Homo sapiens: one gene and its partners. The protein of the gene in region 1 purifies or fractionates together with the protein of each later gene. This does not show direct contact. Each region holds a gene or a part of one and is shown on either strand. Other genes may lie near its edges.

What was found. The genes of interacting proteins can lie anywhere in the genome.
Region 2: the proteins of SAYSD1 (region 1) and DNAJC11 purify together in Homo sapiens (affinity purification with mass spectrometry; one large-scale study listed by BioGRID and IntAct). This does not show direct contact.
Region 3: the proteins of SAYSD1 (region 1) and HSDL1 purify together in Homo sapiens (affinity purification with mass spectrometry; one large-scale study listed by BioGRID and IntAct). This does not show direct contact.
Region 4: the proteins of SAYSD1 (region 1) and SOAT1 purify together in Homo sapiens (affinity purification with mass spectrometry; one large-scale study listed by BioGRID and IntAct). This does not show direct contact.

The regions. Positions count from the first base shown.
Region 1 is NC_000006.12:39,107,725-39,112,649, forward strand, and holds part of SAYSD1 (SAYSvFN domain-containing protein 1), read right to left. Parts: exon of another isoform or gene 1,596-4,925; coding exon of another isoform or gene 1,590-1,595; intron 1-1,589. UniProt on the Homo sapiens protein: Ufmylation 'reader' component of a translocation-associated quality control pathway, a mechanism that takes place when a ribosome has stalled during translation, and which is required to degrade clogged substrates.
Region 2 is NC_000001.11:6,645,680-6,650,604, reverse strand, and holds part of DNAJC11 (dnaJ homolog subfamily C member 11), read left to right. Parts: intron 1-4,626; coding exon 4,627-4,816; intron 4,817-4,925.
Region 3 is NC_000016.10:84,127,541-84,132,465, forward strand, and holds part of HSDL1 (inactive hydroxysteroid dehydrogenase-like protein 1), read right to left. Parts: intron 3,788-4,925; 5' UTR 3,782-3,787; coding exon 3,562-3,781; intron 2,892-3,561; coding exon 2,446-2,891; intron 2,236-2,445; coding exon 2,008-2,235; intron 1-2,007.
Region 4 is NC_000001.11:179,345,009-179,349,933, reverse strand, and holds part of SOAT1 (sterol O-acyltransferase 1), read right to left. Parts: coding exon 4,858-4,925; intron 2,335-4,857; coding exon 2,237-2,334; intron 1,091-2,236; coding exon 992-1,090; intron 1-991.

The DNA of each region.
Region 1 (4,925 bases):
CCTGACCCCTGATACTCATTAAAGAAAGAAATGTCTGTTTCAGATTTGACATGCATGCACAGTATGCGTTCTGGCCCAAGAAGAATGCATCTGGGCAGTGTTCTGGGCAAAGGGGAGAGTAGCATGAGATGACGGGGCTAAGGAGGGAGGGCATGAGGGTGGGAGCCAGATAAAGTAGGGCCAGGCAGGTTGCAGTGAAGATTCTGGAAATGGGAAACAGCTGAAGGTCTAAGCAGGGAACTAACCAAAAGCATGAAATCCCTGGTGCTAAAAAGGTTGGGGAGGAGGCCTAGCAAGAGAGAGCCAGACATTGACCAGGGTGGTGACAGCAGTCAGATGGAAATAGTGGACTGATGGACACAAAATACATTCTGAATATACATGCTGAGATTCACAATAAACTAAATTTATCATTTAGGGAGTATAAAAAGAAGAATGTTCCTATGTCACCATTTACTGAGAGCCTTCCAATGTATGAACTCTGGTAATCCAGGAAGCAGGCATTATTATTCCCAACTTACTGATAAGAAAACACTGAGAGGTTAAGTAATTTCCCTAAAGCCATAAAACTAGTGATAGGCAGAGATGAGGTCAGTCTCGGATCCTAGGATGGTCTCCTCCAAAATATATTTTATTTAATTAGGGGCCTTTATGGGGGGTGGCAGGAGAAAGGTTAGGGAGCTAGAGGTAGATGGGTGTGGGGGTGGGGGGGTAAACAAACTGACGAAGGGAACAAACAAGAGGAGAGATACGGACATTCTTCTGCCTCATTTGGAACTTGTCGGAGTACCAGTTCCCTTCTGCTGTAAAACCTGGGTGAAGAAGTGTTTGTGACTGTTACATCACACACAGGCATGGCCCAAGGAAGGCACTGCCATTCCTCAAATATCAAGCTGCTTCTTACCTTAGGGCCTCTGCACTTGTGGTTCCCTCTGAGAGGAATGCTCCCTTCCCCTCATATCACTTGGTTGACCCCTCCTACTACAAACGGCAAAAATGTCACCGTATGTGCCCTTGGCTTAGTCCCCGTTTTTGCCAGGGTGGTTCCTTCTTGTTAAATGTCTCCTCCTTAGTGAGTTCTCCCTGCTCAGCTGATTTAAAATAGTACTCTGCTCCCCTCACCCCTAATTCACTATCACAGTCTACTGGTTTTATCTTTTTTCTTTCATAGCATTTATCTGGTTTTGTTTATTGTCCTCCTTTCCCTGCTGCCCCAAGCTCAAATGCAAGTTGTACAAGAGTAGGACTTGTGTGTCTTAATTACACTGTCTCCCAGGATTTAGAACAAAAGCTGGAACACAGCGGGCACATGACAAGATTTTTGTTGAATGAATGAATGATAGTGAGGGAAAGGAAGAAATTCAAGATGACTACTAGATTTTGCGGGGGTGAGGCACAGCTGTGCTTAGCCAGGCGACTCCAAAGGAGAGCCTTTGAGCAGAAGGCCAGCCTGAGCCAAGGCCTGGAGGTCAGGAGTGGTGGATGGGTATGGGAAATGGGTTCTGGGGCAGGGTGGTGTGCTGGGGGCTTGCCTGGGATATGGCTGGAGAGGGAAGCAGGAGGTTTCTGTAGGAATTTTTAAAAGTTACCAGCATTTTTGTCCTAATGTGGAAGAAGCTCGTCACAGAATTATTTCAGGAAACTGCTTTTCTCCAAGCAAAATCTGGTAGTGGGAAGGAGGATGTAGATACTTCCTCATCAATGACTGCTGAAAAGATGCAGCGGCATTGTCAGTCACAGCGAGGCCCGGGTCGGGGCAGAGGCATCATTGCAGTCAGAGCTTGGCCCAAATGGAGGCCGCAGTGGCTTTGTTGCTCCAAATGACATGGTTTAGTTATTTTGATGGCCAAAGAGTATTCTTTGTGCATATACATTACAGTTTCTTGATCCCTTCATCTGTAGATGGACAGGAGATAAAGTTTTTGGAATCTCCATGCCTGAGATTAAAAGGTGTGGGACTTCCTCTACCAGGCTCATTTCCTTGGACCTAATATCCTCTGGGTTTCTTGGGTTTCTCCACATGGCTGTGGATGACAGGATTTCCCAAAGCTTTATGGCTGAAGCATATTCCATAGTGTATCTGTATGGTGGTTTCTTTATCCCTTCAGCTGTGGGTGGACAGGACAGGTCATTTACCATGATGTCCTCTAGGTTCAACAGTGTGGCTGCAAATGATGTAATTTCATTACATTTTTCTGGATGAAGAGTATTCCATTTGTGTATATATACTACAGTTTCTTTATCCCTTCATCTGCGGATGAACAGGTTTCTCCACATGGCTGCAAATGACAGGATTTCATCCACTTCTGTCGTGGAAGGGTATTCCATTCTGGATATATATTTCAGTTTTGTCATCCCTTCATCAAGGGATGAACAGGTTCAACTGTGTGGCTCCAGGTGATATGATTTCAGTATATGTGCACAGCTGAAGGGTATTCCATTGTGAATGAATACTACAGTTTCTGTATCCCTTCATCTGTGGATGAACAGGTCTCTCTCCACGTTGCTGGAAGTGGGGTGATGTCCTAAAGTTTGATGGCTGAAGAGTATTCCATTGTGCAAATATCCTGGAGTTTCTGTATTCCTTCATCTGTGGATGAACACGACTGCTTTACATTTGGCCTGTGCCAATGGCCATGTGGAAGTGGTCACTCTCCAGGTGAACTGAAAGTGCCAGACTGACATTGGTGACAAATGAAACAGGATGCCTTTGATGAAGGCTGTACATTGCCAAGAAGAGATTTGTGTCATCATTCTGCTAGAATGTGGCACCAACCCAGATCTTATGGATGTCTATAGCAACAATGCACTACACTATGCTGTGTATAATGAGAATACACTACTGGCAGAAAAACTGCCCTCACACCATGTGAATACTGAAGTGCTGAACAAGGATACTGAAGTGCTGAACAAGGATGCAAACACACCACTTTTACTTGCTATAGTTTGCAAAACACAGCAAAAGGTGGAATTTTAGTGAAGAAACAAGCAAATGTACATGCTGTTGATAGGTTGAAAAGAACAGCTCTCATGCCTGTTGTACATTATGGCTTGTCAGGTATAGTTAGCATTCTTCTTCAACAAAATATTGTCTTTACTCAAGAGTATGTATGAACAGACTGCAGATTATGCTATTTCTGGTGGTCTGACAAGCACTCACAACAAATTTTGCAACATTAAAAAAAAAAGATACTTGAAAATGGTCTTCAAAATGACAACCCAGAAGAAGCATCCAAGAAGAATGCAAGTTTGAAAACAGGAGGAGCAAGTGCAAAAGATTCTGGGAGTTCTGAAGCATCTGCATTCAGTATTTAAAAAAAAACTGTGTGTTGACTCATGGCCTAAACCAGATGATGAAGACTTGACTTTTACTACCAAGCAGTGTATCCCTGAGAGTGTTTCAAAGTCTTTACTTGGACCTTCATATAAAAAAGGAAAAAATATATAGTAAATGGAAAGGGAGAAGGGCCTCCTGAAAAACATCCTTCCCTAAAGCCTACCATGGAAATGAAAGATTCTGTTGTGAAGAAAGCAATAGAAAGGAAGAACGAACAAACATCCAAAGCAGAACAAGAAGTACAAGTGACATCAGAGGAAGAACAGGAAAAGCTTGAAAGTGAAAATAAACAGCCACAGGTTGAAGAAGCTAGAAAGAAGCACGAAAGTTAAAAAAAAAAAGTATCAAAAAAACGTATATGATAGTACATCTGCTGACGATGATGATAAATTAATTCAACAAAGAAAGAGTGGAAAAACTTACCATCAGCGATTTCCTAGGAAGGAGAACAAAGAGTATGCTAGGCCTGCAAAGAAAATGTCAAATGAAAAGAAAAAGGTCAAAAAGCAAACTCATTTAGAGATGAACCTGATGACTTAACTCGGCCCTCTGAAACAGCTTCAGAGGATCATGAGAAACCTTACCCTCATTGTAAGAAGTTTATGATGCTCATTAAGCAATATGGAATGGATTGTAATGATTCTCGTATCCTAATGGAAGTCCAGAATGCATTTCTTTCATGTGAAAAGTCACTGGACCTTAAAAAAAATTATCTGTGAACAACTTACACTAGACAATAAGAAATATGAAAACTGAGTTTAGTGTACTGAAGGAGCTATCCAAAACACAAGAAACGAAGTCACAGTTCAATATCAAAAAGTAGAATGGAAACAGGAACTCTACAGTTTGCAGCTTAGAAGAAGATGAGAAGAAATGCTAATATGTTATATGAAAAAATTAGGGAAGAGTTAGAAAGGAAAGTGGAGCAACATAGGAAAGAAGTTGAAGTAAAAGAACAGCTTAAACTGACTATCGGATCACTAGAAATAGAATTGAAGGCTTGAAGAAATACTTTAAGAAAAAAAAAGATCTGATGCATGAAAATTGCTTGTTGAAGAGAGATATTGCCTTTATTGTGTATGTAAGTATACACAATAAAAAATAGGAACCTCGAAAGGGAAAAAGGACATTGAAATTGTTAAAGAAATGAATGATGACCTTCAAGAGACTATAAAACTGAATGGAAAAACATTAACAAAAACAGTATCCCAGTATGGTCAACAGCTTAACGACCTCAAAACTGAGAATACAATGCTCAAGTCTAAACTGGAGAAGGAAAATCAAAACAAGGAAAGACTGGAAGCTGAAGTTGAGTCATTCCATGCTAGACTGGCTGCTGCTATAAGTGAGTGTGATCAAAGTGTGAAAACAAAAAGAGACCTAGAACTTGCTTTACAGAGAGCACAAGACGTTTCTTTACAAGAAAGAAAATGAGTTCTGATATTTCTGAACTAAAAGATAATAATGAGTTTTTAACTGAGCAACTTTCCGAAGCTCGAATTCAATACCCTAAAAAGTAAACTCCATGACACAAGAAATTCTCTCAGAGAAAAGGTTTTGGTTTTATAAAGTGTACAAAAGGACCTAA
Region 2 (4,925 bases), on another chromosome or scaffold:
ACCACGCCTGGCCTATTTTATTTTACTTTATTTTTGTTAGAGACGAGGTTTTGTTCTGTTGCCTAGGCTAGAGTGCAATAGTCCGATCATAGTCCACTGCAGCCTTGAACTCCTGGGGTCAAGCAGTCCTCCTCCCTCAGCCTCCCGAAAAACTAGGACTACAGGCGTGTGCCAACATGCCTGGCTCATTGTTTAGTTTTTTTTAGGGATAAGTTATCTCTATGTTGCCTAGGCTGGTCTCAAGCTCCTGGATTCAAGCAGTCCTCCCACCTTGGCCTCCCAAAGCACTGAGATTAGAAGCATGAGCCACTTCAGCAAGCCTGGAGTATATGTTTTTTGTTTTGAGACAGGTCTCACTTTGTCACCCCGGCTGGAGAATAGTGATGCAATCTTGGCTCACTGCACCCTCAACCTCCCAGGCTCAGGTGACCCTCCTGAGTAGCTGGGACTACAGGTGTGCACCACCATGCCTGACTAATTTTTGTAGAGTTGGGGTTTCTCCTTGTTGGCCAGGCTGGTCTCTTAACTCCTGACCTCAGGTGATCCTCCCACCTTGGCCTCCCAAAGTGCTGGCATTACAGGTGTGAGCCACTGTGCCCAGGCACAGTGGCATGAATAACTTTCTTATCAAACATGTATTGTAGGCTGTACAAACATGTACAAACATGTACAGGAGTTCGAGACCAGCCTGGCCAACATGGCGAAACCCCCTCTACTAAAAATATAAAAATTAACCAGGCATGGTGGCGCTTGCCTGTAGTCCCAGCTACTTGGGAGGCTGAGGTGGGAGGATCTCTTGAACCCAGGAGGCGGAGGTTGCAATGATCCAAGATCACACCACTGTACTCCAGCCTAAGCAGCAGAGCAAGACTGTCTCAAAAAAAAAAAAAAAGTTAGTTATTACACTTCCAATGAGACATGTATCTGTGTGCCTGCCACGCTCTGCAGGGGTTGACCTAATCCCTGCCCACTAGTCTGGTCGTTTGTCTGTGGGGCATGGGGCAGAGAACACAGGCAGGCTTGCAGGTCAGCCTGTTGTAGGGAGAGCAGGAGAAGTTGGGAGAGAGCCTGCGAAACAGGAGGACGTGGCCTGTGGGGCAGGCGGAGGCCGCTTAGGCACCAAAGCAGTGCTTCCTGGCTGAGCACGGTGGCTCATGCCTCTAATCCCAGCACTTTAGGAGGCCGAGGCGGGTGGATCACGAGATCAGGAGATCGAGACCATCCTGGCTAACACGGTGAAACTCTGTCTCTACTAAAAATGCAAAGAATTAGCCGGGAGCGGTGGCGGGCGCCTTTAGTCCCAGCTACTCGGGAGGCTGAGGCAGGAGAATGGCGTGAACCCAGGAGGCGGAGCTTGCAGTGAGCCGAGATCGCGCCACTGCACTCCAGCCTGGGCGACTCTGTCTCAAAAAAAAAAAAGCAGTGCTTCCAGACACAAGAAGAGGAAAAGGAGCCGATGTGACTCACACCTGCAATCCCAGGGCTTTGGGAGGCCAAGGTGGGAGGATTGCTTGAACCCGGGAGGTTGAGGCTGCAATGAGCTGAGATTGCACCACTGTACCCCAGCCTAGGCGACAGAGCAAGACTGCCACCGAGAAAAATTTTTTTTAAAAGATGGAAGGAATGTGGGACATGCTGCCATGGGGCATCACCTGGGTGCTGCTCACAACACAGCTCCACAGTCCCCTGCTCTACGTAATTGGATTCACCTACTGGGTCTGCAAAGGGGACCGGGATTCATACTTAGAAGAGAACAGCAGGGAAACAGCATCTGTATACACATCAGTGTTGTCCTGACCCTGTCTACTTAGATTGGTCACCCCAGATGCTGGTTAAAAGCCGCCTCGGGGGCAGGGTGTGGTGGCTCATGCTTGTAATCCCAGCACTTTAGGAGGCCAGGTGAGACGATCACTTGAGCTCAGGAGTTTGAGACCAGCCTAGGCAACATGGCAAAACCTTGACTCTACAAAAAATATAAAAATTAACCAGGTGTGGTAGCACACACCTGTAATCCCAGCTACTTGGGATGCTGAGGTGGGAGGATCGCTTGAGGCCAGGAGGTCGAGGCTGCAGTGAGCCATGATGACACCACTGCACTTCAGCCTAGGTGACAGAGCAAGACCCTCTCTCAAAAGAAAAAAGAAATGCTGGTCAGGTGCGGTGGCTCATGCCTGTAATCCCAACACTTTGGGAGGCCAAGGCAGGCGGGTCGCCTGAGGTCAGGAGTTCAAGACAAGCCTGGCCAACATGGTGAAACCCTGTCTCTACTAAAAATACAAAAATTAGCCAGGCGTGGTGGTGGGCACCTGTAATTCCAGCTACTTGGGAGGCTGAGGCAGGAGAATTGCCTGAACCCGGGAGGCAGAGGTTGCAGTGAGCCAAGATCGTGCCACTGCACTCCAGCCTGGGCGACAGAGCCGAGACTCTGTCTCAAAAAAAAGAAAAAAAGCTGCTTTGGGTCTTATGAGGGAGGGGACTGGGAATCTAGGTGTTTCAAGCGCCCCAGGTGATTCTTAAGGTCACACAAGCTTGGGAGACACTTCATTAAGCAAAATCTTTTGGCCGTTTTGTTCTGGTTGAGCCTCAGTGTCTATTCATTGAGTGGTCACCAAGAGTTTGGGGTGGACTGATCATCAGCATTTACAGGTTTGGAAATTGAATTTAGTTTTACTACTCAGAGCTTATTAGACTTGAGCAGATTTAAACGGAAGGACAACTGATTTATAAACAAGGGGGTGATGTGTGACCAAGGATGCCAGCTTCTTTTTTTTGTTTGTTTTGTTTTGTGTTTGAGACGGAGTCTTGCTCTGTCACCAGGCTGGAGTGCAGTGGCGCAGTCTTGGCTCACTGCAACCTCCACCTCCCAGGTTCAAGCTATTCTGCCTCAGCCTCCCAAGTAACTGGAACTACAGGCACATGCCACCACGCCTAGCTAATTTTTGTATTTTTACTAGAGACGGGGTTTCACCATGTTGGCCAGGATGGTCTCAATCACTTGACCTTGTGATCCACCCACCTCGGCTTCCCAAAGTGCTGGGATTACAGGCGTGAGCCACCGCGCCCGGCCTACTAGCCCAGTTTCTTAATATATAGTGGCCAGGTTAGTTATGGATGTCTGCTAACCACGGTCCTCTAATCCTTGGATCAAGTTGCAGATGTTCCTTGATTTACGATGGAGTTACGGCCGAATAAGCCATCTTAAATCAAAAATATCGACCTGTTGGCTGGGCACAGTGGCTCGTGCCTATAATCCCAGCACTTTGGGAGGCTGAGGCAGGTGGATCACCTGGGGGCAGGAATTCGAGACCAGTCTGGCCAACATGGTGAAACCCCATCTCTACTAAAAATACAAAATATTAACCGGACATGGTGGTGGGCGCCTGTAGTCCCAGCTACCCAGGAAGCTGAGGCAGGAGAATCACTTGAATCCAGGAGGCGGAGGTTGCAGTGAGCTGAGAAGATCACGCTACTGCACTCCAGCCTGGACGAGCGAAACTCCGTCAAAAAAAAAAAAAAAAAAAAAAGACCTGTCCAGGCTCAAGTGCTCCTTCCTCCTCAGTCGCTGAGACTACAGGGCGTGCCGCTACACCTGGCTAATTTTGTGTCTTTTTTGTAGAGATGGGGGTTTTGTCATGTTGTCCAGGCTGTCCTTGAACTCCTGGGGTGAAGCAATTTGCCTCCTCAGCCTCCCAAAGTGCTGGGGTTACAGGTGTGAGCCAATGAGCCTGCCTACTGTTATTTTAATGGCATAAACATCACCTCCAGAGCTTAGAAAGGAGAGAAAGAAACTTAGGCAATTGATGTGGAGCTCTTTATTAAAGAAACCAGCTGTTAGTTTACCCTTCAGCACCTTGAATGAAGTGTGAATTTCTGTTAGTAAAATGAAATACCTCTTTTCAACCAGAAGATGGGGCTGGACTCCCTTGGAAAGAAACTGCAGAGGCTCTTTTCGGGAACCGGTTTCCTGTGCTCGCTTTGCCTGTAGTTTCTGTCACTAGTACCCAGCTGTGGTCACTAGTACATCAGAAATCACACAGCAGCTCCAAAAATATACTGATGCCTCCACCCAGAAATTCTGGTTCCATAGGTCTGGGGTGTCCTCTAGGTAAGTGATTCTCAAACTCTACTGCACATTGGAATCATTGGGACACTTAGCACTCCAAGCCCACACTGAAGGAATCAGCATGCCGGCGAAGAAGCCACCAGCCGTGATTTGTGGATGAGCCAGGTGATTCCAGCGTGCAGTATGAGCACCACTGTCTTGGACTGCTTAATATGAGACCCTCCGTTGGTGATTCTGACTTGCACTCCTCGGCCCCCATCCATTCTAACTTGAGTGGGGTTGCATCTGCTGGCATAGGAATGCAGACAGTCAGGTGCCTATTTGGTTGTAGCTAAAGTTAGGGCGGCTGAGGGGAGTCGGGAGGTTACTAGGAAGATTCTGGCTAGGACCCTCCCCCTCTGTGTGGATAGAGGCCTGACCTCCTGCTTTTTTTTTTACTGGGAGCTGGCCCAGGGATGCATAGACGTGACAGTAAGTGAGGTCTTAGCCAGGCAGAGAGGAAGTAACAGAACAGCTGAGAGCAGGTGCTATCCAGGACCTATTCTGTCTCTGTGTCTCTCCAGCTTTGTGACAACAAACTGTGCTCTGCAGTTTTCATCCCGTGGAATCCGACCCGGCCTGACCACTGTCCTAGCTCGGAACCTAGACAAGAACACCGTGGGCTACCTGCAGTGGCGATGGGGTATCCAGTCAGCCATGAACACTAGCATCGTCCGAGACACTAAAACCAGCCACTTCACTGTGGCCCTGCAGGTGAGCCGAGCAGCCATCATCTCCTGCAGACAGAGCTCTGGGAGGACCCCTCCTCCCAAGCACTCAGTGCTCCCCTTAAATCCTGCGTCCTGATCACCACTAAGTCTAA
Region 3 (4,925 bases), on another chromosome or scaffold:
TCACTTTTCATAAAAGTCATAATTAACTGTTGATATACTTACATGTTTATTTGGTAGTGGCAAATCTAATACTCTTCATGCAAACAGTCCCAAAAATATCTGTTTGATAATTAAGAAAACTCCGAATATTAAAAAAAAAAAAAAATTCGGACCAGGTACAGTGACTCACACTGGTATTTTTTTTTTTTTTTTTTGTGAGACGGAGTCTTGCTCTGTCGTCCAGGCTGGAGTGCAGTGGTGTGATCTCGGCTCACTGCAAGCTCTGCCTCCCGGGTTCACGCCATTCTCCTGCCTCAGCCTCCTGAGTAGCTGGGACTACAGGCGCCCACCACCACGCCTAGCTAATTTTTTTGTATTTTTAATAGAGACGGGGTTTCACGGTGTTAGCCAGGATGGTCTCGATCTCCTGACCTCGTGATCCGCCCGCCTTGGCCTCCCAAAGTGCTGGGATTACAGGCTTGAGCCACCACGCCCTGCCAGCTCACGCTTGTAAATCCCAGCACTTTGGGAGGCCAAGGCGGGTGGATCACCTGAGATCAGGAGTTCGAGACCAGCCTGACCAACATGGTGAAACTCCATCTCTACTAAAAACACAAAAATTTGCTGGGCGTGGTGGCAGGCACCTGTAGTCCCAGCTACTCCGGAGGCTGAGGCAGGAGCATCACTTGAACCCGAGAGGTGGAGGTTGCAGTGAGCCAAGATCGCACCATTACACTCCAGCCTGGGCAACAAGAGCGGAATTCCATCTCAAAAAAAAAAAAATTCTAAACTAGGGCACATCTCTTTACTACACCAGATAAAGGAACTGAAATATATTGTAATAGATAATTATGCATTCTCAAATTAATACTTACGATCACAATTTCAAATATCTAAGAAAGTTACTTTCTACAGTACTAAAAGGTACCAATCCTTTGTCATGCCTAAACAATAAGCTTAAAATAAAAATTCTATGCTTCTTGAAAAAATTAGTCTAAGACTATACAGAGATATTATTTGATAAAATGGTTGCATGAAATATAGCCCTATCTTGTGGTTTTGTGGTTTTTTTGGATTATATTTTTCACTGAGAGGTAACCCTCAAGCAGTACTAGAATCTTTTACTTTGAAATTCCCATGTAAATACTTAGTATTTTTATAGTCCTAACATCCACTTACAGCAGCATATTTCTTTTTTTTTTTTTGGAAACAGAGCCTTGCTCTGTCGCCTAGGCTGGAGTGCAGTAGCGTGATCTTGGCTCACTGCAACCTCCGCCTCCAGGGTTCAAGCGATTCTCCTGCCTCAGCCTCCCAAGTAGCTGGGACTACAGGCACACACCACTAAGCCTAGCTAATTTTTGTATTTTTAGTACAGACAGGGTTTCACCATATTGGCCAGGTTGGTCTCGAACTCCTGACCTTAGGTGATCCACCCACCTCAGCTTCCCAAAGTGCTGGGATTACAGATGTGAGCCACCACACCCCAGCCAAAGTAGTATATTTCACTTTAAGGTGCCACATAGATTGAACTTTTGAAAATTCTTAAGGTAATAATTTCACAAAAGAAAATTTAGTGTCTTTGGTCAGGCACGGTGGCTCACGCCTGTAATCTCAGCACTTTGGGAGGCTGAGGCAGGCAGATCATGAGGCCGGAGATCAAGACCATCCTGGCTAACACGGTGAAACCCCGTCTCTACTAAAAATACAAAAATTAGCCAGGCGTGGTGGCAGGTGCCTGTAGTCCCAGCTACTCGGGAAGCTGAGGCAGGAGAATGGCATGAACCCGGGAGGCGGAGCTTGCAGTGAGCTGAGATCGCACCACTGCACTCCAGCCTGGGTGACAGAGCCAGACTCCATCTCAAAAAAAAAAAGAAAGAAAATTTAGTGTCTTAACCAAAATTATTAAGTGTCAGGCTTAAGAGTCAGAATTTACAATTCTCATCTTAGGCTTTAATCAGATTTCTCTGTATCACTGAGATAGGTTCATGATGCATTAATCTAATTATGAGACCTGAAGCACACTCCTACCTGAATAGAATGGGACCAATATCCTGTGGTCCTTTTGGAAATCCCAAGAGTAGAAACAGCATGATGTGCATAGACTTTTGGCGAAGGCACCAACCACGAGCACCTGTGCAGAAAGTTGCTGGGTGCTGTCATGCTGGTGGCTACATAGAAAGGGATTAGACTCTGTACAAAGATTCCTTTAGAGGCATATTCATATTGCAAGGCTCTGCTGAAGTGGTCTAAATAAGCCTGTTGAGACAGAGGGGAGGAAAAGACTTTTAATTCTGGGTGAACTTGAAAATTCAGGAGAAAAAAAGACTTGCTTATTATCAATTCAGGAAAAAATACAGGATAAGCATATGTGAGTTGCTGACAAAGAGTTCAACAAATCAGACCAAACAACTGTTAATAAATGTTCTGTGGCATTAGGATTTCATCTTCCAGTAAGTAACATCTGACCTTAGAAGCAGAAAATGCAGCCAGCTGAGGAGTGGGTTTGCAGCAGGAGCCAGAAGAGATCGTGACGATGGCACCTTTCTTTCTCTCCACCATTCCCGGTAACACAACATGGACCATCAAACTAGCGGCGGCAATGTTCACATTTATGATGTCCCAGAGCTTGTCCTCGGACAGCTGAGTGAAATACTGCGGGTAGGGATAAAACACACCCACGTTATTTACCAAGATGCCAACGTCTTTGTCCTTCAGGGCTTCTCGAATTGGAAGGTAGATCTCACGACCGCTGCTGAAGTCCGCAACTATAATATCAGTTTCCACTTTGTACGTGTCGGCTATGTCTTTAGCAACAACCTGCAACTTCTCCTCGTTCCGACTAATCAGGATTATATTGAGACCTCGGCTTGCTAACTCTTCAGCGTAGGCTTTTCCAATCCCATCTGTTGCACCTAGGATGCAAGTCAGGAAAAGTGAGCATGTGTATTTCACGGTGTGACCCTTAAAATGGACCCAAAGTACCCCCTGTCAGGTTTAGTCAGAGAAAAATTCACACTAGAAATCAAGTCGGTTCTAGTATCTACAAGTCAAGGACACTGTTGCTGAATGAGGAATGTGAAGGGCGCATGCTATACACTCTCCCAGACATCCTGACACACGGACAGGGAGTTATTTTACATTCACCATATTGGTTAGGAGACACAGTAGGAATTTGTTTTCAAACTACTATCTGGCTTGAATGAGTGGCAGGAGGTGCTTTTCTGGGAAATCTTCATAAATTAAAATGAAATTCAAAATAGGTGAAGCATTTCTGAAAGTGGCAACACTTTCAAGACAATTTTAAAACAGAGAACAAAAAGGAAAAGCACATAGTAGGAAGTGGGTCTGGAGGAGGACTGGGAACAGGAGAGAGCAGAATAGGAAGGATACCAATCATGAGGCCAGTTCTTCCTAAGATGAGAGCAGTAAGAAAATGAAATGTGAACATAATCACGGCAGGAGCCATAAGTTTTATTTTTTTATCAGCATGTTCCCATAAAAACACCACATTAAATTCAATAGCTCCTTGAATAATGCATCCGACTTCACAGAAAAGATTATTTTGATTATAAAGTAGGTTACCGCTGACAACGGCCCATCTTCCATACTGCTTGATCAAGTCTGCTCTGCTCCCCAGGCGGGGGATAAAATGCAGCCTGATCAGGCTGTAAAAGTCACAGATGACAGTGATGCTTTTTCTGGCCGTATACCAGGCTCCAACCAAAGCTAGAGCTTCCATATAGCAATTGCAAGACCTGGCGATTTCCCTGTACAAGAGGTAGAAACTGTCAACAGCAGCCATGGCAACCTGCAGGGAGAGGGAAAGAGAGAGAGCCTCTTTGATTAATAAATTAAAGGAACATACACAGTCTGAGTGAAGACATCCAGCTGAGGGCATCAGATCTTGTCAATTGTACGTTCAAATAACACTAACTTTTCAAATGTACGTGGCTCACAGTTTCAGTCTATCTATCTATCTATCTATCTATCTATCTATCTATCTATCTATCTATCAGACAGAGTCTCACCCTGTCGCCCAGGCTGGAGTGCAGTGGTGCGATTTTGGCTCACTGCAACCTCCACCTCCCGGGTTCAAGCGATTCTCCTGCCTCAGCCTCCCAAGTAGCTGGGACTACAGGCACATGCCACCACGCCCGGCTAATTTTTTTTTTTTTTTTTGAGACGGAGTCTCGCTGTCGCCCAGGCTGGAGTGCAGTGGCGCAATCTCGGCTCACTGCAGGCTCCGCCCCCTGGGGTTCACGCCATTCTCCTGCCTCAGCCTCCGGAGTAGCTGGGACTACAGGCGCCCGCCACCTCGCCCGGCTAATTTTTTGTATTTTTAGTAGAGACAGGGTTTCACCGCGTTAGCCAGGATGGTCTCAAACTCCTGACCTCAGGTGATCCGCCACCCTTGGCCTCCCAAAGTGCTGGGATTACAGGTGTGAGCCACCATGCCTGGAGATTCAGCCAATTTATGATCTCACCATTTAACATCCGTAGCTTATAAAGTTACTTTCTTCCAAGGAGACTAATCAACATAACTACCAGAAGTTACCAAATTCCCACTAAAATTCAGGTACTACACTACATGCTGTGGCTACAGAGATAAACACAATATGCTCTGTGCCTGTAACATGCTCCTAGTCTAATAATAACAAACACAAAGCTTCTAATTCATACAGCAGAGGTACATGTATTTCTTTGCTTTATTCATAATCAGCAAGAATGGAGGACCTACTACCTGTGTAGGGACAAAGGAGATGAAACAGAGGTGGCACTAAGACATGGCCTTGGCCTCAAAAGCTTACAATCCACTGGAGACAAAACTCAGCTTTCAAAAACCTTTACATCAATTAAAAAAAAAATTTTTTTTAAAGAGATACCCTCCAAGCTTGGAAAAATGGCTTCTCAAATGACAATAGAGGGAGCACTCCTCCATCTTCTAA
Region 4 (4,925 bases), on another chromosome or scaffold:
ACTAAGATTTCAGAAGGAGAAAAGGGACTTGCCTTATCCGTATGTGAAACTACACTTGAATGACAGAATTAGCACTCAAATATTAATACAATGCTATTTCCACCATAAGATGCTGTCACTAAGCCAAATGGTGCCCTCACTTAATAAAAACTGTAATCTAGATACCTGTTTATCAACCAGGAGATTCAAGATTACATCTCATCAGTCTAAGTATATTCTGCTCTAAAGAATGTCTCAAAGCCAGGTGTCACTGATTGGAGAGATACAAAATCCACACAAAAGTGTTTCTCACAGAAAAGTGTTTCTCACCCGGGCACGGTGGCTCATGCTTGTAATCCCAGCACTTTGGGAGGCTGAGGCGGGCGGATCACCTAAGGTCGGGAGTTCAAGATGAGCCTGACCAACATGGAGAAACACCATCTCTACTAAAAATAGAAAATTAGCTGGGCGTGGTGGTGCATGCCTGTAATCCCAGCTACTTGGGAGGCTGAGGCAGGAGAATCGCTTGAACCCGGGAGGAGGAGGTTGCAGTGAGCCGACAACATGCCACTGCACTCCAGCCTGGGCAACAAGAGCGAAACTCTCTCAAAAAAAAAAAAAAAAAGTGTTTCTCTACCTTTAACCATGAAAAACGAATGAAAAAGACCAAAGGGAGATTATTTGTTGGCAACAAGACTCATAAGAAACTATCCATTATTGGTGGATCATTTCAACTCCAACAACCTCCATGCATTCTTACTTTGTTATGTAAGATAAAATTCAGAGCAAAAGACACAGTATTAGACCTACTAGTGTACACACAGTGGTTTCTAAGCAGTACCATTCAAAGCAGGTTTCTAGATGTAAATTTCTCAAAAGAAAACTGAAAAGATACTATCACCCTTTCCTCATGAGCAATTAAATATAACTTCTTCCAGCTGTATAATACTCATACTTTCTGAAAAAGAATCTCCATTTCATAAATAATATCAACTTAAACCTTGCTACTTACCCAGAGAAAGTCCTTGTAAGCATAGTAATATAGCCAGTCATGGACCACCACATTCCAGGTTCTATAATAGTTGGAGTATGACGTGGAGTTCCACCAATCCTGAGGGAAAAAGTAAAGGTATAAAACTACACACACACACACACACACACACACACACACACACACACACACACACACACACATCCCACCCGAAAGCAAACCCCCCTGACTTCCCAAAGAACATATGTAACAGAAAAATCAAATTATACTGTGATAAACTGTTGGTTCATACACTGGTGACAGAAAAATCTTCAAAGGCATTTTGGTTATTAGTGTTGAATATGACATGAATTCTCATACTATATATGATTTAGTTCCTAGGTTCATACGGAACACATAGAATCATTTAAATCTAATGTTCATCTAAACAGCAATCAGTAAGCCCCACCCCCCTTACCCTACTAGAATGTCATGAGAAAATTCTATGGTCATGAAGACCAGAGAGAGTGCTAACACTAGAGAGCTGTTTGGTGGTTACCATAAATGGCAAAATTATCCAGGGTGAGATGGTGGCTACCTCAAAGTCCTGGTATCCCTATATATGCTTCTTGCTCCCAATATTAAGATCAGATGAATGAAATCAGGTATCTAAAATCTGCAATCCACACTTAAAGTTTCTTTGAGAAAAAAGGTGGTAGACTTGGAGTGTTGCCAAAAACAACTCAAAGAGAGCTTTAGGTAGGGTTAAAGAATGCTATGAGCCATTCTGACTCTAATTCTATAGCTTAATTCCAACTTTAGAAGCATAAGGATACTATCTGAAGCAAAATTAACACCTTTCAAAACTAAAGAGGGAAAAGTTATTTCCCTCATGAACTGCTCAATTGTCTTAAATGGAATAATTTGCTGAGGTCATTCCTACAGAACTAGACGGTCCATTTCAAATGAATGAACACTCAGGGAAGTCTCATGGTGTGCTCTGAACAAACAGTTTCCTACTGGAATCACCAATATATCCTTGCAGGATCCAGCAGAAACCATGTGCTTATGTTAAGGGAGCAGATATTAGAGACAGAAGAAAACACAAGGTTATGCTAGTTATATCTGTAACCGAATTTCAGAAAATACTGGCAAAACTTGTAGAAAAGAAAATTATTTCACAATGTTTGTGTGAAAGGCTGGTGACATTAGCCAACAATGTCAAAATACTAATAATGAAGAAGTTAATAAAATGTAAAAAGAAAGCTAAGTCTAAGTATATACTACCTTATAGAACATCCTGTCACCAAAGCGTAACATCTCAGCAAAGGCATTGAGCCAGCAGTGCAAAAAGGCAAAAAAAGTAAGGAAGAGAATCAGCACACCTAAAAATAAGATTAACAATATTAACAGTCTTTCCAAATAGCTCACATACCAAGCAACTAATTATATCACATCATTTTATTTAGCTGGGATTATTTTGTAAAATATAAGTTATTATTCCAGTTTACCCATTCCAGAGATGATATACTTTTGGAGTTAATTATCTTAATTTTAAAACAGTAACTTCCTTCAAAGTGGGTTCAACAAATGACATTACCCAGTCTGGTTTTTTTTTTTCTTTTTTGAGACAGAGTCCTGCTCTGTCACCCAGGCTGGAGTGCAGTGGCGCGATCTCGGCTCACTGCAACCTCTGCCTCCAGGGTTCAAGCAATTCTCCTGCCTCAGCCTCCCAAGTAGCTGGAACTACAGGCATGTACCACCACATCTGGCTAATTTTTTGTATTTTTAGTAGAGACCGGGTTTCACCATGTTGGCCAGGCAGGTCTCAATCTCCTGACCTTGTGATCTGCCCACCTCAGCCTCCCGAAGTGCTAGGATTACAGGCGTGAGCCATCGCGCCCAGCCTACCCAGTCTGTTTTTAAGAAATGCCTAAATATATGGCTTAACTTAGTACCCAAGGTCCTTTAAAAATCTGGCCCCCATACCCCCCTCTTAAACAATTGTTTAAAACTGGGAGAGATTTTGCCCCCTCTCCCCCACAGGACATTTGAAATTCTAGAGACTTTTTGTTTTTAAAAGACAGGGTTTCACTATGTTGCCCAGGCTGAACTTCAACTCCTGGGGCTCAAGTGATCCTCCCACCTCAGCCTCCAGAATAGCTGGGACTACCGGTGCAAGCTACTGCACCAGTGCTGTGACAATTGGAGGAGAGGGAGTGGTGCCACTGGTATCTAGTTGTTAGAGGCCAGGATGCTGCTGAACAGTTTATGCTACAATGCAGAAGAATGCCACTCCAAACAAAGAATTAACCAGTCCAAAATGTTAATAGTGACATGGTTAACATAGTGACATGGATAACATTCTAAACATATCTCCAGTGATTCTACCCTCTAAGTGTTGTAAACATTATCCACAACTGGGTTTATGCCATTCCAGAATGCTCCATGCCCTTGCATCCATCCCACTACCTAGAATGACCTTTCCACCAATTCTCTGCCAGGCAAATACCTACCTATTTTTCAATACCCAATATTAAATGTTATCTCTAATGTGAAACAAAGGCCATAAGCATTTTGTTTATCCTACTTATGTAGTACATATTACAATATATTGTAAAATATCCATTTATATGTCCATCTCTTTCACTCATTTATTGAAAAATATATATTTATAGAGCATCAACTATGTACCAGACAATATGAGAGAGACTGTGATTGGCTATAAAACACAATCCTTGAACTCAATAACTTTGCAGCTAGTGAGGAAGACACTCAAGTATGTAACACATATTCTATTTTAGGGACAGATACAGAGTTCATTCAAATAAGTCCTGGGGCTGGTGAGGGAGGGTTACTGGAAGAGGAATGCAAGAGAAGAAAAGAAAGGGAAGGTGATGACAGAAAACATTACCAACATTCAATGAGTAAAGAAAAGAGGAAAAGTAAGGGAAACTATAAAAGCTCCCAGACTGTAAAGATAATACATCTCTTGTTCACTTCTGAGTCCTCTGCACCTGGCATAGTACTAGGTACTCATATATCTCTATAATAGACAAAAAAATGCAATAAATATATTTAAGAAATCAAGGTATGGTCGGAAAGACAGGAGGAAAATAAGAAATAGTGGCAAAAGGCCAAGCATGGTGGCTCAAGCCTGTAACCCCAGCACTTTGAGAGGCTGAGACAGGAGGATAACTTGAGCCCAGGAGTTTGAGAATGGCCTGGGCAACATAGGGAGACCCCGTCTCTCCAAAAAATAAAAACTTAGCCAGGCATGGTGGCATGCACCTGTAGTCCCAGCTACTGAGGCGAGAGGATCACTCGAGCCCCAGAGGTCGAGGCTAGTAAGCCATGATGACACCACTGCATTCAGACTGGGTGACAAAGAGAGACCCGATTTCAAAAAAAAAAAAGGCAAGAAAACAGTGACAAGAGAGATTTAAAAATGTGGTCAGCAGCACCCAATGCTTCATGGAGGTCAACTTGGATAAGGGGTAAAGTACATCTTAATCCATCCACTGGATTAGAATATGGATTACTAGTAATTTCTACAAGTAATTTCTACAAGTTACTAGTAATTTCAACAAGGGGCATTTAAGTGGCTTGGTGGAATCAGGAGCAAGATTACAATGAACTTAATAGCGAACAGGAAGACACAGCATGAATGTGGACTGTCCACTGTCAGAGAAAGGCACAACTTGAGTGAAAGCCATAAGATGAAAGACTGACCTGAGACTGGATGAAGGATACTTCATTTATAAAGTAGATGCAAAAGAGGTCAAGATGGGCATAGATGTATAGAAGTTTAGATGAAAAAGTAGGCAAAGCAAAGGTGCTCATAGGCAATAGCTTTCTATTTACCTCGTGAATTTATGCATGACCAAATTAACAAGTACCCATGTTACCTGGCAAGATGGAGTTAAATACACATAGGACCAGAACACGAGCGCTGAAGGGCTCCTGTTTGATATTC